2 separate regions of the Homo sapiens genome follow, and region 2 is linked to region 1. The links come from fine-mapping of genetic effects on gene expression. A gene starts in region 1. The other region holds a variant in brackets. All regions are shown on one strand. Distances are from middle to middle. Region 1 holds the start of PIDD1 (p53-induced death domain protein 1). Region 2 overlaps TALDO1 (transaldolase 1).

Region 1 (2,897 bases):
GGCGTGGTGGTGGGCGCCTGTAGTCCCAGCTACTCAGGAGGCTGAGGCAGGAGAACGGTGTGAACCCTGGAGGTGGAGCTTGCAGTGAGCCGAGATCACGCCACTGCACTCCAGCCTCTGGGACACAGCCAGACTCCATCTCAAAGAAAAAAAAAAAAAAGATCCCTCCAGGCCCTACATGGAAGGGGCTGGGGTGAATGGAAGCAGGGAGGCCTGGAAGAGACCTGCCTGTCCCAGAGGGAGGGATGGTGGTAGCTGGGAAATGGAAGGAAGAAGGAGCCGCCGATATGACCTCAGGAAAGAAGCAGGCATAGCTGGTGGTGTCTGTTCCCTCCCTAAACACCTGCTCTCCTGGGCGAGGAAGCTGGTGAATAAAGCACAGGCCCGCTCGGGGGTATCATGTTGGTGGGGAAGGAGGAGCCGCTGATATGACCTCAGGAAAGAAGCAGGCATAGCTGGTGGTGTCTGTTCCCTCCCTAAGTACCTGTTCTCCTGGGCGAGGAAGCTGGTGAATAAAGCACAGGCCCGCTCGGGGGTATCATGTTGGTGGGGAAGGCGGACAGGGCAGATTTCAGGTTCTTGGCTTTGACCCTCACCAGCTACAGGGCCTCGGGCAATATCTGATTTTTTTTTTTTTTTTTTTTCAGACGGAGTCTTGCTCTGTCTCCCAGGCTGGAGTGCAGTGGCACCATCTCGGCTCACTACAACCTCCGCCTCCCGGGTTCACGCCATTCTTCTGCCTCAGCCTCCTGAGTAGCTGGGACTACAGGCGCGCATCACCACGCCCGGCTAATTTTTGTATTTTTAGTAGAGACGGGGTTTCACCATGTTGGCCAGGCTGGTCTCAAACTCCTGACCTCGTGATCCACCCGCCTCGGCCTCCCAAAGTGCTGGGATTACAGGCGTCAGCCACCGCGCCCGCTCAATATTTTATCTCTTAACGCCTCCTTCTCCCCTGCGCGATTGAAGGAGACAGTGCCAGGAGGCTCACTGCTTCTGGCCCAGAGTGATGGCTCGAAAGGAAGGGTCTTTGCAGGCCCAGAGAGGAGGTCCTGGCAGGCTTCCCGGAGGAGGCCGTTTGGGCTGGTTTGGAAAGGACACTGCAATTGTTCCGGCTTGTAGCAGGGGTGGGTGCGGGGCAGCGGCAAGAGTACCCCCGTCACCCCGGCCTGGGAACGCACCTGGGGCCGGGTCTGCCTCGGAGCGGCCCGGGGCCCCGAGAACCTCGGAAAGGGCGGGTTTCGTGGCCTTCCGGGCGGGGGAGGCTGTACGGCTCCGACCCCGCGGACTAACAGGAAGCCGAGCGCTGCTGCGCGGGCGGCTCGGCAGATGGACGGGTCGCGTCCGCGTCTCCGGGGCTGCGACAGGCGGAGGGAAGGCGGGTCGGGGAGGAGCCGGGAGACCTCCCCCGTGGACCCCAGCCCGGCGGAGGGGGCGCGTCCCGAGGGGGCGGGGCCCAAGGGGCGGGGTCTGCAGTCCCCGCCCACCCAGAAACGCGCCGGCGGGATCCCAGGCGCCGAGCGCCCGCTGAGCAGCCACCCTTTGCGCGCCGCCTGCAGCGCAGGTACGCGCCGGCCTGGGCGGGCGGAGGGGGCGGCGGGGACACGTTTGCTTTTGGGAGGCTGGGGGCCGTTCCCATCCCCGACGCCCGGGGGATCCCGAGCCTGCCTCGGGGCTGGGGCCCGCCCCCCACGCCGTCTGAGCGGTGCGCGGTGCACCACCCTCCCCAGTGGACCGAACTGGAAAGGCCGGGAGAGGTTTCCTCCGGGGCTCACGAATTGGGGTCCCGGCCCCAGGACCCCGAAGCTGCCCAATGGCTCACGCCCCAGGCCCTCACCCTTACACGGCCTTCCCTGACTTTCGGGGCGCAGTCACCCCCGCGGTAGGGGAGGGTCACGGCCTTCCTGGTAAAACGGATGTAAATAGAAGGGGGACTCATCTCCAGGACTGGGGAACAGCCCCTATGACCTCGCAGCTCCACGGCTCCATTGGCCAGATTTCCAGGACCAGGACTGAAGCCTCACTACCCCGGCTTTGCTGCTCATAGCGAGGTCTCCCTGCCCGGTGCTCCTGCGAGCCATGGCGGTCCCATTCCCCAACCCTCTTTCCAGTGGTGACCCAGGCCTCCGGGGTTCAGGGTGACCACAAGGTCTCCCCCACTCTGCAGCCCAGGCCCAGATGGCCTGGCTCTAGAGCTCCCCACTCCATCCAGAGTCCCTGTTTCCCCAAAGAGAAGGGCCCACCCCGGCTCCCGCTCACTCCTCCTCCTGCCTCTGCAGCTTCCCCGGGCGCTGCCTGGACAGGCCTGCCTGCGTGCTGGGACATGTCTGGCCTCCAAGGACCGTCGGTGGGCGATGGCTGCAACGGTGGAGGGGCCAGAGCTGGAGGCAGCTGCTGCCGCAGGAGATGCTTCAGAGGATTCGGACGCAGGGTCCAGGGCGCTGCCTTTCCTGGGCGGCAACCGGCTGAGCTTGGACCTGTACCCCGGGGGCTGCCAGCAGCTGCTGCACCTGTGTGTCCAGCAGCCTCTGCAGCTGCTGCAGGTGGAATTCTTGCGTCTGAGCACTCACGAGGACCCTCAGCTGCTGGAGGCCACCCTGGCCCAGCTGCCTCAGAGCCTGTCCTGCCTCCGCTCCCTGGTCCTCAAAGGTGAGTTCCACCTGTTCTGGGCCCTGTCTCCATCTCTCGCTCTGCCCTGCCTCTGCTGCATGTTCTCAAAGGCAAACCCCAGTCCCAGCCCCAGCTCCAGGCCGCCCCTCCCGGCTCCCCAGGTGTGAACTGTTCTGCTCTTGGTCCTGTCCAGCCCCATCGCCATCCTCGGTGATCACCACCCCCAGTGTGGGGCTGGCTGGGCCCTGGCTCCTGGACCCTGACGCTGCCCAGTGGGGGTCTCTCCA
Region 2 (2,897 bases), 40 kb after region 1:
CCATGCCCAGCTACTGCAGGGACACAGCCCCATGCCCGGCTAGGAGGGACACACCCCCGTGCCTGGCTAGGAGGGAAGTTCTTTTACGTTCTATGATGTGGGCGGACCTGGACAGAATGCTGAGTGAGTGAAAGAAGACTGTCTCAAAAGGCCTTTACCCTGTGATACCATTTTTGTGAAATATCCAGAAAATGTAAGTCAGACAGAAAATAGATTGTTTGAGGCTGGGAACAAATAGGTATGAGATTTCATTTTGGGGTGATGGTTTCACAGTTCTAAGATGACTGAATCATAGGGGCAAGTGGGTGAACTTGATGTTTGCAAACGACACTCACAAACTTAGTCACATCCCCAGAGCCCCATTCTGCTGGGCCTCCTTGGAGATAGTGGTGCTGTTAATAATTGGGAGCCACAAGACCTTTGATGTCCTCTTAGGACTTAGCTTGTTGACCGGCTCGGAGGCAGAGGCCTGGCCTCCTGTGGGAAGCCTTGAAGGGTGGGAGGGACTCCTCAGCAGTGGGGGTTGGTGTGGGGAGGGCTCTGCCCACTCAGCTCTCCACCCCAGGAGGAGCCCTGCACTGGTCTTGATCAAGGGCACTGGCAGCCCAGCTGCCTCCCTGGCCTGCTGCTCTGCCCGAGTTGTCCCCTCTTGCACCCTGGATGGGCGGGCATGCCCAACCCAGACTGGAGTTGAGGGGCAGTGGCCAGATGGCTGGTGTAAGGTAGGGTAGCTTGTTTTAGGTTCAGGGTGAGAAGCTGCAGCTCCATCCTACAGCCCAGTGCTGTAGGATCCGTAAAGGTGGCCGGGTGCAGTGGCTCAGGCCTGTAATCCCTGCACTTTAGGAGGCCGCAGAAGGAGGATCGCATGAGCCTAGGAGTTCGAGACCAGCCTAGGCAGTGTGGTGAGACCCCCCATCTCTACAAAAAATAGAAAATTAGCCATGCATGGTGGTGCGCGCCTGTAGTCTCAACTACAGGCGGGAGGATCACTTGAGCCTGGGAGGTGGAGGCTACAGTGAGCCAAGATTGCATCACTGCACTCCAGCCTGGGCAACAGAGTGAGGCCGTGTATTGAAAAACAGGGAGAGGCCGGGCATGGTGGCTCACACCTGTAATCCCAACACTTTGGGAGGCCGGGGTGGGTGGATCACAAGGTCAGGAGTTCAAGACCAGCTTGGCTGAAATGGTGAAACCCTGTCTCTACTAAAATACAAAAAATTAGCCGGGCATGATGGCAGGCGCCTGTAATCCCAGCTACTTGTGGGGGCTGAGGTAAAGAGAATCGCTTGAAACTGGGAGGCGGAGGTTGCAGGGAGCCGAGATCGCACCACTGCCCGGGGCGCACTCCAGCCTGGGCGACAGAGTGAGATTCCGTCTCAAACAACAAAAAAAATGGGGGTGGCGACTTCAAGGCCAGTGGCTGGTGCATGTCGTGCTGCCCCCACAAGGTGGCACCATGACCCCATGCAGGAACCTGGCATCCCATGTAAGGTCTCAGCCACAACAGGACAGGAGGGGGGCGGGGGGCATGGGCAGGGCAGCCTTGACAGGGAACAGGAGGCCCAGGCCCTCAAGAGCAGGAGGGAGGGTCCGGCTGGGACTGCTCCTCTGAGAGGCATCCACATCTGCCCACGCTTGGAGGCTTGAGACTGTTCATCTGTGACCCACCTGGGACAGCACCTTGGGAGCCCCTGGCATCAGAAGCCTGCCCTTTGCCTAACTCCACCAATGGCCTCCCAGCAACAACCCTGACCTGGGTTCCCAGGTGGTGGCCCAGGCGGTGG[GT/T]TGTGTCTGGGGTACCCTGACCCCGACCCCATCTCTGAGTCCTAACCTAGGTTACAGCCCATCACAGCTGGGGCAGGTGATGCTTAGGGGACAAAGGGGACGGAGACAGTGAATGAAACAGCACAGGAAAAGTGACTGCTTTAATGTATTAGGCAAAATTTTACATAAAATCAGAAATCTATGATCTGTCCCTGCTCCAATTTGTAAAAAACGCAAGATTCATCAGAAGCCACGTGCAGTCAGATCCCAGCTGGCCGGCGGTGCAGATCTGGAGTCCAGCCTCAGGGATGCGCTACTTTCCATTCTCTGCATTGAACATTCGTTCCTAGAAACAAACAGAGCACGAGCTGTGTCTCCCCACCCTACCTTCTGCACCTTGAAGCCTCACAAGGCACCATGTGGAAGGAGGGAGGCCCTTGTGGGGTCTGCACTCTGTGTGGGGGCCACGGCCACAGGGTGGCCAATACCACAGTCACCACACAGGCCAGAGAGGAGCCAGGACCCACCAAGCATCCTGGGGGCACCCCTGGGTGCCATGCACCCTCCACCCTGGGATGGCCTCAACAGGCCCCACTTGCTGGACAGCACGTGAATGAGACCTGGGGTCTCACCAAAGTTTTAACTCTGCCCAGCTTGAACCCCGACGCCCAGGCCCGGGCTCTCATAGGGCTTGGCATATGTAGGTACCCACACACAACACTCACTGTCAGCATCCGCTCCAGCTTCACTGCATCAGCGGCAAACTTGCGGATCCCGTCAGAGAGCTTCTCCACAGCCATCTGGTCCTCGTTGTGCAACCAACGGAAAGACTTCTCATCCAGGTGGATTTTTTCCAGGTCACTGGCTTGGGCTGGGGGACAAGAACCAGCCTTCCATGCCTGCTCCATGTCCCTGCCCACCTTGGCCCCTTGGGCTCAGGGCCTGAACTGCTGCACCCAAGCATCTCCCACCAGGGCCAGGCCTTGGCCCCAGCAAGGCTCACGCTGGAAGTGGGGTTCAGCCCACAGAGCCTTGGCTGATGACTTGAGTGAGATGTGTTAGGAAAGCCAAGCCCTCCGTTGAGGTCTACTTCACCCTCATGTCTCCCAAGATGAGCTCGCCCCACAGGTGGG

What was found. PIP is the estimated chance that this variant, and not a neighbour inherited with it, causes the effect. A credible set is the group of variants that fine-mapping cannot tell apart.
Region 2: its variant is the best candidate, but not a certain one, in a credible set for the expression of PIDD1 in fibroblasts (GTEx, PIP 0.66).

Annotation. Positions count from the first base shown.
Region 1 is chr11:803,846-806,742 of GRCh38, reverse strand. It overlaps PIDD1 (p53-induced death domain protein 1), which reads left to right and starts at 1,512. Exons shown (of 16, transcript NM_145886.4): 1 at 1,512-1,564; 2 at 2,280-2,649. The coding sequence starts at 2,355. RefSeq lists a silencer at 1,164-1,883 and enhancers at 2,244-2,383, 2,464-2,533, 1,885-2,582.
Region 2 is chr11:764,026-766,922 of GRCh38, reverse strand. It overlaps TALDO1 (transaldolase 1), which reads right to left. Exons shown (of 8, transcript NM_006755.2): 7 at 2,490-2,635; 8 at 1,911-2,110. The coding sequence ends at 2,078. Among named protein-coding and RNA genes, the nearest start is that of GATD1, 12 kb to the left of the region's middle. RefSeq lists a silencer at 1,171-1,584. The variant GT/T (reference allele first, on the strand shown) is at 1,785.